4 separate regions of the Homo sapiens genome follow, and regions 2, 3 and 4 are each linked to region 1. Evidence: fine-mapped expression QTL. A gene starts in region 1. Each other region holds a variant in brackets. All regions are shown on one strand. Distances are between the middles of the regions.

Region 1 (2,686 bases):
GTACATGTGCAAGTTTGTTACATGGGTGCATTGCATAAGGTGGGATTTGAGCTTCTAGTGAACACATCACCCAGTGAACGTAGTACCCAATTGGTAGTTTTCCCAACCTTCCCCCCTACTTTTGGAGTCCCCAGTGTCTACTGTTTCCATCTTTATGTCCATATCTATCCACTGCTTAGCTCCCGCTTGTGAGAACATGGTATTTGCTTTTCTGTTCCTGCCTTAATCCACTTAGGAAAATGGCCTCCAGCTGCATCCATCTTGCTGCAAAGAACTGATTTCATTGAAAAAGACCAGTTTCTCAGCCCTTCCTATTTACCTCAGAAATTAAGACATCAAGCCAATCCTTGAAATAAACTTTCTTTTTGTCGTTCAAGCAAAGTCAGAGCAGAAAATGCAGGTGGCAGGGCAAGTAGAGTAATTCTGCGTCTTTCTCAGGGATGTCAAGAGCAGACTCTGGGCATACATCGCTCCGCCTGAGGAAGGATTTAGGGAGCAAGGCTGCCTGGAGGGAACCGGCACAGGGTGCAGGACCCGGAATTCACCCTACACCAGAGCCTAACATGTTAAGAGGTCTAGGACCGTGTAGCAAGTTTTGAAGGCAACCCCACCCCACATCTTTGCATAGTCTGAAACAATTTTGCATCCCCCAACTATTTAGGCAATTGTTCTCATCATTGGATAATCGAATTTCGGAAAATTCTAGACTAATCACTACCTCCAATCACAATATGCTTTGATTGGGCCCGGGAGGGACAGAGAGGGGCTGAGCAAGGCCACAGGAGCACAGGGCCGAGCAAGTCCCTCCACTCACTCAGCAGATGGGGCACCCGGTGCCCGGCGCTCCCAGGCCCGACCCGAACCCACTTACCCTGGGGGGTGGCCTGGGCGCCTGCCGCTAGCCACCGCTGCAGGACCAGGTGCAGCAGGAGGACGGCGGCTCCGCGCGGGGCCAGCATGTTGGCTCTTCCTGCTCCCCGCGAGGCCGGGGGCGACGGCGGCGTTGGCCCCGCCTGGGGGTCCCCGGGCCGTGCGTTGAACCTCGGTCGGCGCCCGGGCCGGCGCCGCAGGTGACCCGTGCTCGGCGTCCGGGCTGCCGTCGGGGGCGCGCTCGCGTCCCCGCCGTGCGGTGCTGGGGAGCTGGCTGCTGGGCTCCGCGGCAGCGGCCGGGCGCTTTATGGTGCGGCCGGGCGGGGGAGGGCCGGGGCGGGGGCGGCCCCCTTGGCGGGATCCCCTGTCCTGGGAAGAGCTGGGCAGCTGGAGCAGCGAGCCGGGGCCGCAGGGAGAAAGGCGCGGGTGTGAGGATGGGAAGGAGCCTGGACGGACCAGGTCCTGGGGTGGGTGTAGACACGGCCCCGACGCGCGAGGGTAGGGGCGAAGATGGGCAGTCGGGGCTGGAGAGAAAGGGGTGCTGAGCAGAGACCACAGGGGAGAAAGGAGCGGGAGGAAAGGGGCGAAAGGGAGGAAGAAAGTGACACTGACCCACTAGCTTTGGGCACCTTCAGTCCCCTACTCCTTGCGCTCCTTTTGTTTTCTAAAAAGAAGAATATCCTTTGGATCGGCTTTGAATGCCCACCTTGGGTTCCCTTGCGAATGAATCCTGAAGTTCTCCAGGAACGCTCTGCCTCCTAAAGTGGCCCAGAGAGCAGCGAGTTTCTTTTATTTCTTCAAGCTTTTCTTGAATACTTGAAAGGCTGAATTTTTTTCTCTATCATTTTGAGACACAGTGAAAGTTTGAAAGTTGTTGTGTTTTTAATGGAGATAAAACACATCTCAAGGAATCCATCCAGACAGAGCCATTTCTAGGCTGGTGAATCTGTGCTTTATGGATAATTCGTTTTCAGTATGGTTTCCAAACGCCCTGCTTGCCCACCTCTATTCCTCTGTCACCAAAGATTCCGTGTGACAGTTTAAAGGTACGGGAGTAGAACTTGAAAGAGATCGGAGGAACGCAAGTAATTCGTCCTTTTCCTGGGCAAAGCTCCCGGAATGATATGGATTAACTAGAGGAAAAAATATTTGATAAACAGTGGCAAAAATTTCTCCTCTGTAACAATCTCGACTAATGGAGAACATCCAGCAAAGTATTGCTATCTCTTTTATGTCTCAAATAATTCCATTTCAAAGTTTAATAAGCCACAAACTGGGAGATTAATGCACCATTTTATCCCCAAACTGTGCTAAAATAACCTGACACCAATTATCACTCAATTTACAGCTAGCGACTTGGAGATTTGTGAGCTATCTGCAGAGCTCTCTAATATGTAAGGTCCAATACAGGTCTATCCAGGGTTCCTTTAATGCCACATTACACTACAGTCACTCTTTGGAATGGGGCATATGTCTACACATGAGAGAACACTGAGAGACACAGAGGATGTGCATAAATATCGACTAATGAGATAAACTAGATTTGGGAACATTCAAATCTCCAGACCATGTTCCCAGGAGTGGCCTGGGTTTGAGAGGAATCTAGGCTCCCAAGCTACGCTTCAAGCAGAACAGCCTTGCCTTTCTATGTTTTTACAGTAGACTTCAGAGATTAAGATTTTCTGTGAAGACAATATTTGGATGCTCAAAATTTTGAAAGCCACTATTCAGTGGTTCTCAGCTGATTGGGTATACCAGAATCTCCTGGGGAATTTAAAAAACAGTGATTAGGTGCCTACAGGGAACAAATGAAACC
Region 2 (2,686 bases), 160 kb after region 1:
TGTGGTTAAACACTTCTTGAACACTTCAGACCTCGGCTTCTTGGTGATCTCATAAATTTTCCACAGACTGTGTGTCATTCACAACCTAAGGATCTGGAAGGAAACCCAGCTTTAAAATGCACTTCCCAGTGATTTCAGCCTGAAAGGTGATATGTCTGTTTTTCTAACATCTCAAAGTCACTGGAATGTGCATTGGCAATGTTTCTAGACCAGATTTCTGGGGAACTGGCTCATTTGTCTGAGAGACACAGTTAAGTTAAAGACACTAAAATCTCAATTCTCTTGGCTACTTCACTTCAACTACACAGATGGCTGCTTTGGAGACTAGCATATATATTAGCTGAGATAAACAGGAATATGTCCTGGCAGAAGAGTATTGTCCAAGTGATATTAGAAGCAAAGCTTCTGAGAATGTCATTAAGAATATGTCCTTTAAGTGGTGAGACCATTGGTTGATGTAACTCAACATTCATTCCTTTATTCACATGTATTTCCTGCACAGAGGCTGCAGGCCAGCCTCTCTGCTAAGCTACATGAATCAGGCACAATCTCTACCCTGGAGAATTTTATAGTCCAGTTGAGCAGACAAACAATTATAGTGCAGTGGTAGCTTTGTGTGTGTGCTTGGTACAGCAGGCTTTGGGGGCACAGAGTGAGGAGTGACCACCCCTGCCCTAGAGGATTCAAGAAAGGCTTTCTAGAGGAGGCTTTGAACTGGATCTTGAAGAATAAGTGGTAGTTTACCACTCTTGGGAAAAAGTGGCAAGGGAACCTAGAAGCAACGGCATGGCAAAGACACAGACTCAAGAAAGAAGACTCACTGTTCCAGAAATATTTAGGAGCTTGATGTGGCTGGAGCACAGGTCCTCTGGGGGCAGCAGTAACATTTTCATGGGAACATGGTAACTTGCTCTTCATAGGCTGATCCTAGTGACCATGACATCTAATATCTGTGAATTTATCTGACCTATTCTCGGACCCATTTTTTACTTCCATGCAGAACACCTAATGGGGGTAATGGGTTCCACTTACAGGCTACAGGCTGTGTAAAGATCTATTTCCTTTCAGTTGTCCTAAAATACTTCCTTAAATGATCACCAACAGGGTCATTTTTCCCTCTTTTTATAATTGCAGTGTTTTGGCACTCCTACCTAATCCCCAGGCATCCTATAGATAAAGAATGGATGTGAAAGGCACCACTGAAGCCCTGGCTGGGGCAGCCATGCCCACCTAAAGGCCAAAACCCACCCCCGCTCCACCTTCCACCTCACACGCACAGGCCGCATGCTGCCTTTTTGTAACTCTTTTTCTCT[C/T]TGATGACCTCCCTTGATGTTAATGTTATTCTTTTATTTTTAAAAAAATAAAACAAAATCCCCAATGCATTAATGTGCAATGAGAACTAGATCTGCCAAGTGACTCACAGCAGCCCGAGCAGGACAGTCTCCCCATGCAGCTGGGAAGAATCTGAGCCTCGGCTGCTGATTAGAAGGATGGAGCTGGTGAGCGGCATCGGGTGCCGGCAGACTGCAGCGTCCATTGCCGCAGTAACAACACTCCTGGCACCTGGGCTTCTCCCCAGTCAGGACTGGGATTGGCCCTGCCAAGGTGACACTCTGGAGAGCCACCTTCTTCTGATACCTGTAAGGATATAAATGTTAGGGAAGGACAAAGCTTTTATAGGTGATCTACAAGATGGCTTTACAAAAAAGTTCCTTTGGGACTTTGTCCTGAAACAGGAAGCTTTTAGCCAGAGCCATTCTGGAATTTTAAAAAGAAGGGACAGGATTCTAATCTCAAACAACCCCTGGAATCAACTTTTGACTCCTCCTGTCTGACTTTTCCTCCTCCTGCTGGGACAATAGAACTTGCCCGGCTCTACCCAGGGCCCTTTCCCTTTTTTCTTTCCTGGCCTCTTGGCTCAGCTCACCTCCCGCTTCTCATCCTCCCTGAGCGATGTCACACATGCCCATGGCAGGCAGGAGAGGAGAGAGGTTGGATAAGGAACACGGTGCAAGCCTGACTCCACATGAAGGAGAGATGGGAGGAAGGATGGAGAGAAACACTGTAGACCACCCAGCAATGTAAAGAAGCTCAGCAGCGTTATGGGGGTGTTCTTGAGCAAAGGTGGCCATCAGAGTTGTCCTGGCTTCCAAGGAACAGGCTGCCCTGGCACTCCCACCAACCTCAGCCATTGCCTTGGTGTAGCCTATGGGAAGCATGGCCTCCATACAGGCATGGTGATGGATTGCAGAGTGCAGCAGCTGGGCTCCTGGTCAATGAAGTTCCTCCATCTTGGAGGTCTGCGAGGCTCATACTCATGGCTGCCACACTGGAGGACTCCATGTCATCCTTGCCTGGCCAGCTTCTACTGTCTTCCAGGTCTTAGTTTAAATGTCACTTCCTTAGAGAAGCCAACCCTGACCTTGGGGTTGCCCAGGCCCCCCTGCTGTCTACTCCCAGAGCGCACACTTCACTAAAAGTTCCTGTTCAACTGACTCCTCCGATGCACTCTGCACTCCAGGAGAGCTAGGCTGAGTCCACAGTACTCGGCAGTACTTGGCCCCTAGAAGCCACTCAGTATGTATTTCTTGAATAAATGAATGACTAGTTGCTGGTGCTTGTGAGACAGCTCAAATTGTGCAACAACCTTGGCTTTAGGGAATATGCTTCTTCTGCAATGGATTGT
Region 3 (2,686 bases), 69 kb before region 1:
CCAGGTGCCAAGGGCATTTTAAAGAACAGAGCATGTCAGGAGAGTGGCAGGAAAACAGGTTTGCAGTATTAACCCCACTTTGCCATTCTCCAACTCCCTGTCCCCCTCCAACTTCCAAGCAGGTGACTTCCTGGCTCATTGCCTCAGCTGTGGAATGTGACAGACAGGAAAGCAGGACTGGACCTGGGATTCAAAAAGCCCAAAGCCACTCCAGAGTGTACAGGACTCCAGATCTAGCCAAAATATTTGGCATATGGGAGGTTTGATGAGAAGGTGATTTCCTTGGTGGTGTGGGGAAGAAGGAAAGCAATGACAGTGCAGAGGTGGGGGTACAGGTCGGAAACAGGGGGCAGATCGTCCTGTTTCCTGCAACCTAGAAAGAGCCCTGGGAGACCCCAGAGAGGAAATGGCTTGTGTGTGTGTTGAGGTAGACGGGACCTTGCCTTCTAGAGGTTCTATCCCAGCATGGTTCAGAACAGAACCAGTTCTTTCCCAAGACAGCCGCAGTAGGGGCAGCAAACCTTCAGCCTTAAAAGGACCATGACCTTGACAGGGCATCTGTCTAGTGAATGGGCTGAGAGGTGAGTGATGGCAGCTGCCCTGCACACCTTCAGGGATGTGCTCACACAGTGGCCTTTGCTGTAGGCAAAACTCTAAAGATACTCTCCCTTCTCCCTGTTTGGTCAATCAAACACAAATTTAGGTTCTGCTGGGAAGGGGCTTTGCAGGTGGAATTAAGGTTACTAATAAGCTGACCTTAAAATAGGGAGGCGACCCAGCACATCCAGGTGGGCCCGATGTAATCAAGCAGAAAAGGAAGGCGGAAGAGTCAGATGCCGCAGAAGGCCGAGTCCATGATCTTCCAAGCGTGAGAAAGATCTGATGCCTCCTGGATGATGTGCAAGGACCAAAGAAGGAACCTAAGGAGCTGAGGGTGACCCTAGCTGCCACCTAGCAAGTTTACCCACAAAGAACTGAACTGGGCCAGCAACCTGAACGAGCTTGGAAGAGGATTCTTTCCCAGAGTCTCCAGCTATAAGCCCAGCACAGCCACCACCTGGTAAGACCCATGTTGCACTTCTACAGAAACTGTGAGAAATAAG[T/C]TTGTGTTGTGTTAAGCCATTATATTTGTGATAATTTGTTACAGCAGTGAGAGCAAACTATATAGCCTTTGAATAGTGGTCTGCAGTTGTGTAAGACACAAAGTAAGTGACAATAGGTGGCATCTTCTAGACACCTGTGTGACAAAAGACAATAAAGACCCCATCTCCCAGAGCTCAGTGGGACTTTGACAAGATCCCAGGTTCAGGATGTGGGTAAATTTTAAATCAACAGAGATTATGTTTCTGCCACATTGGCAGGATAGGAATCAAATAGAATTAAACTCTGTGACAGAAAAATTGTTTGTTGGCTGGGTGTGGTGGCTCACACCTGTAATCCCAACACTTTGGGAGGCTGAGGCGGGTGGATCACCTGAGGTCAGGAGTTGGAGACAAGCCTGGCAACATGGTGAAACCTTGTCTCCACTAAAAATACAAAAATTATCCAGGCGTAGTGGTGCACACCTGTAATCCCAGCTACACGGGAGGCTGAGGCACAAGAATTGCTTGAACCCGGGAGGTGGAGATTGCGCCACTGCACTCCAGCCTGGGTGACAGAGCAAGACTCCATCTCAAAAAAAAAAAAAGACAAAGAGAAATGGTTTGTTTTCTGTACACCTGAACTTGTGGCCTAAGATTGGGACCCACTTCAAGAGATCTTACATTAAATGGAGCTGCAATTAAGGCCTCCTAAATGCTGAGAGCTTCTGTGTCCAGGTTAGCGTTCAAAGGACAGGAGCAAGGGGGAGGAAGGCAGAACAGATAAATAGTTGAAGAGGCTCCCAGACAGGTCTTCCCCCCAATACAGCCAGACCCACGGAAGCTTCCACCAGCCCAGACAGGCTTTGCCCTTGTGCTGTCGTGCAAGAGGAGCTCTGGGGCCTGACTGCTGCTGCGTGGGGGAAGAGCCAGCTGTCTGGGGGCTCTCACAAGTACAGTTCTGCTTCCTCTGGCTTCCCACTGTTGGGACTCAGAAAAGAGTACTCTAAAATGAAAGCCTCAGAAGTTAAAAGTTTTTCTCTGCATACCTGCCCTCCTTTCTCTCAGGCGCGTTCTCCCCTAGTCTAGCCTTAGAAACTAGAATCCCTCTTCCCCATAGAAACCAGAACCTCTTTTCCCCAAAGCCAGCCATAAATCCTAAAAATATTACTCTTATTTTCCCTCTGCCTTTCTGTGTAAAAACTGGCCATAAAGAAATGATCCGACTTACCTTGTTTGACTGTAGGTCATAATTCCCCCATTCCCGAGAGGGTCCTGCCCCACACACAGAAGAAAGGGATGCTGTGCAGAGAGGCCAAGAATCTACACAGGCCTCACTGAATCTCCCAGCTCAGTCTATCAGCATTAGATCATACCCTTTTTTTGTCCAGTCGCATTTGTACATAGCTGTTCATACTTCGTTAATCTTAAGCATCAGTATGGCCAATTTCCGCGTTATCTTTGGGTTTTCATTCTGAAGGATCCTGTGTATAAATGTGAAATAAACGTGTATGACTTTTCTCCAGTCAACCTGCCTTTTGCACAACATGTCTCACCGACAGGGCTGACCTTCCTTAAAGGCATCCCCTGGGCTCCTTGCACCAGAT
Region 4 (2,686 bases), 57 kb after region 1:
CTAAAGATCTATTTTGCCTTACCAGAAAAGAAAAAAAAAACCCTAAAACCAAAAACTCCTTTTCCCTAGGAAGTCAAAAATGCTGTGATTTAAAATATCTAATTATATTTTTTTCTTTCTATGGTAGTGGGGTTTACTTCTGAGGATAAAATATTTTGAAAAAGCTCTGTCCCTTGACATGGTAGTTCTCCCGTGCCTTGTACTTGTTCTCTCTCCATATGCACAGTGTGACAAGATGCTCACCTTTAATGAAGAAGGTGTAGCTTTTCGTTTTAAGCTGTAATTGTCTTTGTCTTGATTTGGCTATTTTTATAACTGAAATCCTGAGCAACAGAGATAATTTGGGTGGTAATGATCATCTTTTGTATATGTTCTTGATGTTAAGAAATATTTTTTGCTGCCATTCAGCTTTGTGGAATTTATGTTTACTTTTCAATATTTTCATATTTCTTAACCAGATTTTAAAGAAATTTGTTGTTAGTTACGTGAAATCAAAGGTCAGGTCAGTAAGCCCATTATCCTCAAACTTGAAGTTTCGTTGGATGTTCAAAATGCTAATTTTTGCAGAGATATAAGGATAAATTAGTTTTAGTTTGTGTTCTTAAGGGTTTGCAAAATAATTTGGCTCCCAAACTCTTGTTGGGGTGTAGTGTTTGCTAGGAGCCCAGGATACCTGCCCTGGACTTAAATTGTGATTGAAGTGGAGAGGTACTCTAGGAATTTAAAAAGACACAAAATTATTTTTTTCCAGACTAGTGTGCCATGGATTTCTGATAAGAATTAACATTCTTGAACAAAGGTATCAGAAAGGGTAACTCGAGTTGAAGGTTTGTGAATAGAAGGGGAAATGTGATAGAAGATTATTCAGAACAAAATAAGTAGACAAAATAACAAAAGACAGGAAAATAAGTCTCTTTGTATCCTTATTAATCATTTGAAATTATGCTATAATATTTTTTAAAACTCACCTGTTTGGTTCTGGGTGAAGCAGTTCCTGAAGGAGTGTTTTGTCAGAATATATTGTTAGGAGAATAGAGGGTTCTGTGGCCAAGTAAGTTTGGGAAATAGTGGGTTAGACAAAGTTGAGTTACTGTTGGCCTTTCAGACCTTTGATACGCTAATGTGCATTTTAAATCTCCAAGAAGCACCTCTATTTTATACATCATTTCCCTAATTTATTTTAATATGGATTTCTTGTTTTTGTTTTCTTGAGACGGAGTCTTGGTCTTGTCACCCAGGCTGGAGTGCAGTGGCACGATCTCGGCTCACTACAACCTCCGCCTCCCAGGTTCAAGCGATTCTCCTGCCTCAGCCTCCCAATTTACTGGGATTACAGGCACCTGCCACCACGCCCAGCTAATTTTTGTATTTTTAGTA[G/C]AGATGGGGTTTCACCATGTTGACCAGGCTGATTTTGAACTCCTGACCTCAGGTGATTCTGCCCGCCTCACCCTCCCACAGTGCTGGAATTATAGGTATGAGCCACTGTCCCCGGCCAGATTTTTTTAAAAGTAGGTATCTTGTGGGATTTATGTTCTGAGAGATACACCTAAGGAAATGCTGCCCTACAGTGTTTTTGCTAGTTCATACTCATTACAAAGGTTTCTTGTTGTTGGGTGCCCCTCTAGCCAGTGGTAGTAAAATGGGAAGAGACAGGTCAAGACTCCCTTGGACCATGGCATTGAGAGAGGGATGGCTGTCGGCATAGATATGTTGGTTATTTAGGCATTTGTGAGGGAGGCCCCTGGCTCTTCCAGCCTGTTTCCTTAGGATCCCAGTTGGCCGGGAACAGCTGTACAAGGGTCTGCTGAACTGGTGGTTTCAGCAGACTACCCAGTTCCTAAGCATCCATGAGACAGAGGGAACCAACTTGTATTTCCAGAACAATTTTCCAAACCTTTTCTGGCTGTACTTTAAAAGTGCCAAAAAGGCAATGGGTGTTTATGACACTAAAGTCACATACAAGCTAGTATGATACATACATCATAGAAAGCTTATAGTTGCTCAGTGACAAAGCAAAGGAAGTTTAATATTTTCCAGTTTTGTTCATTACCGAAGACAGTCTACGGTTCATAGTTTTCACTAAATTCTAAGCAGATTCTATATCCTAAAACATTTAAACCTCACTAGGCCTGCAATTTTGAGAGGGTTAGCTAAATATGTTTGGTATCACTTCAGAGTCTAAAACCAGATTACTAATCGTGTGTAAGGAGGCATTTTGTGTGTCTTTGCAATGTATACAATTGGATTATTTGGAACACCATTTTGAATGTGTATTTGAGAGAAAGCTCGCCTGTGGGTTTTGAGTTGTGGTGTAATGGTGAACATGTAGCCACGTGAAAGGCCGTTGGATCTTTGTTCTGATTCTTCAGTCGTCTTCTTGCAAATTCAGAGAAATGTCTTTTAATCATTTCGTTTACATATCCCAGATCCTTGGAAATCATGAAAAATAACTTGCCAGAGTTTGCATCAGCCCTCAGTAAGTCATGAACCATAGAGAAGGTCATGGGGCCATTTATTCTTTGGACCACTGGCTACTTCTGAAGTTCTGGCTTCCTTCTCTCTAGGAGGAGTCGTGTATTCAAGCTTTTAAGTTAAATGCATAAAAATGAGTTTTACTTCTCTTCTGACTTGATTTTTAATTTTATGAAATGGGAAATAATGTTTTTCCATTTTTCTGTTCATTTTG

What was found. PIP is the estimated chance that this variant, and not a neighbour inherited with it, causes the effect.
Region 2: its variant is the best candidate, but not a certain one, in a credible set for the expression of THBS4 in visceral fat (GTEx, PIP 0.84).
Region 3: its variant is the best candidate, but not a certain one, in a credible set for the expression of THBS4 in testis (GTEx, PIP 0.86).
Region 4: its variant is the best candidate, but not a certain one, in a credible set for the expression of THBS4 in subcutaneous fat (FUSION, PIP 0.54).

What each region holds. Positions count from the first base shown.
Region 1 is chr5:80,033,811-80,036,496 of GRCh38, reverse strand. THBS4 (thrombospondin 4) reads right to left here and starts at 1,149. Exons shown (of 22, transcript NM_003248.6): 1 at 872-1,149. The coding sequence starts at 959.
Region 2 is chr5:79,874,192-79,876,877 of GRCh38, reverse strand. The region is part of intron 1 of LOC105379048 (a long non-coding RNA gene); the gene reads right to left. Among named protein-coding and RNA genes, the nearest start is that of LINC01455, 61 kb to the left of the region's middle. The variant C/T (reference allele first, on the strand shown) is at 1,314.
Region 3 is chr5:80,102,842-80,105,527 of GRCh38, reverse strand. No RefSeq gene overlaps it. Among named protein-coding and RNA genes, the nearest start is that of THBS4-AS1, 21 kb to the right of the region's middle. The variant T/C (reference allele first, on the strand shown) is at 1,104.
Region 4 is chr5:79,977,115-79,979,800 of GRCh38, reverse strand. MTX3 (metaxin 3) reads left to right here. Exons shown (of 9, transcript NM_001363818.2): 9 at 1-2,686. Among named protein-coding and RNA genes, the nearest start is that of MTX3, 13 kb to the left of the region's middle. The variant G/C (reference allele first, on the strand shown) is at 1,378.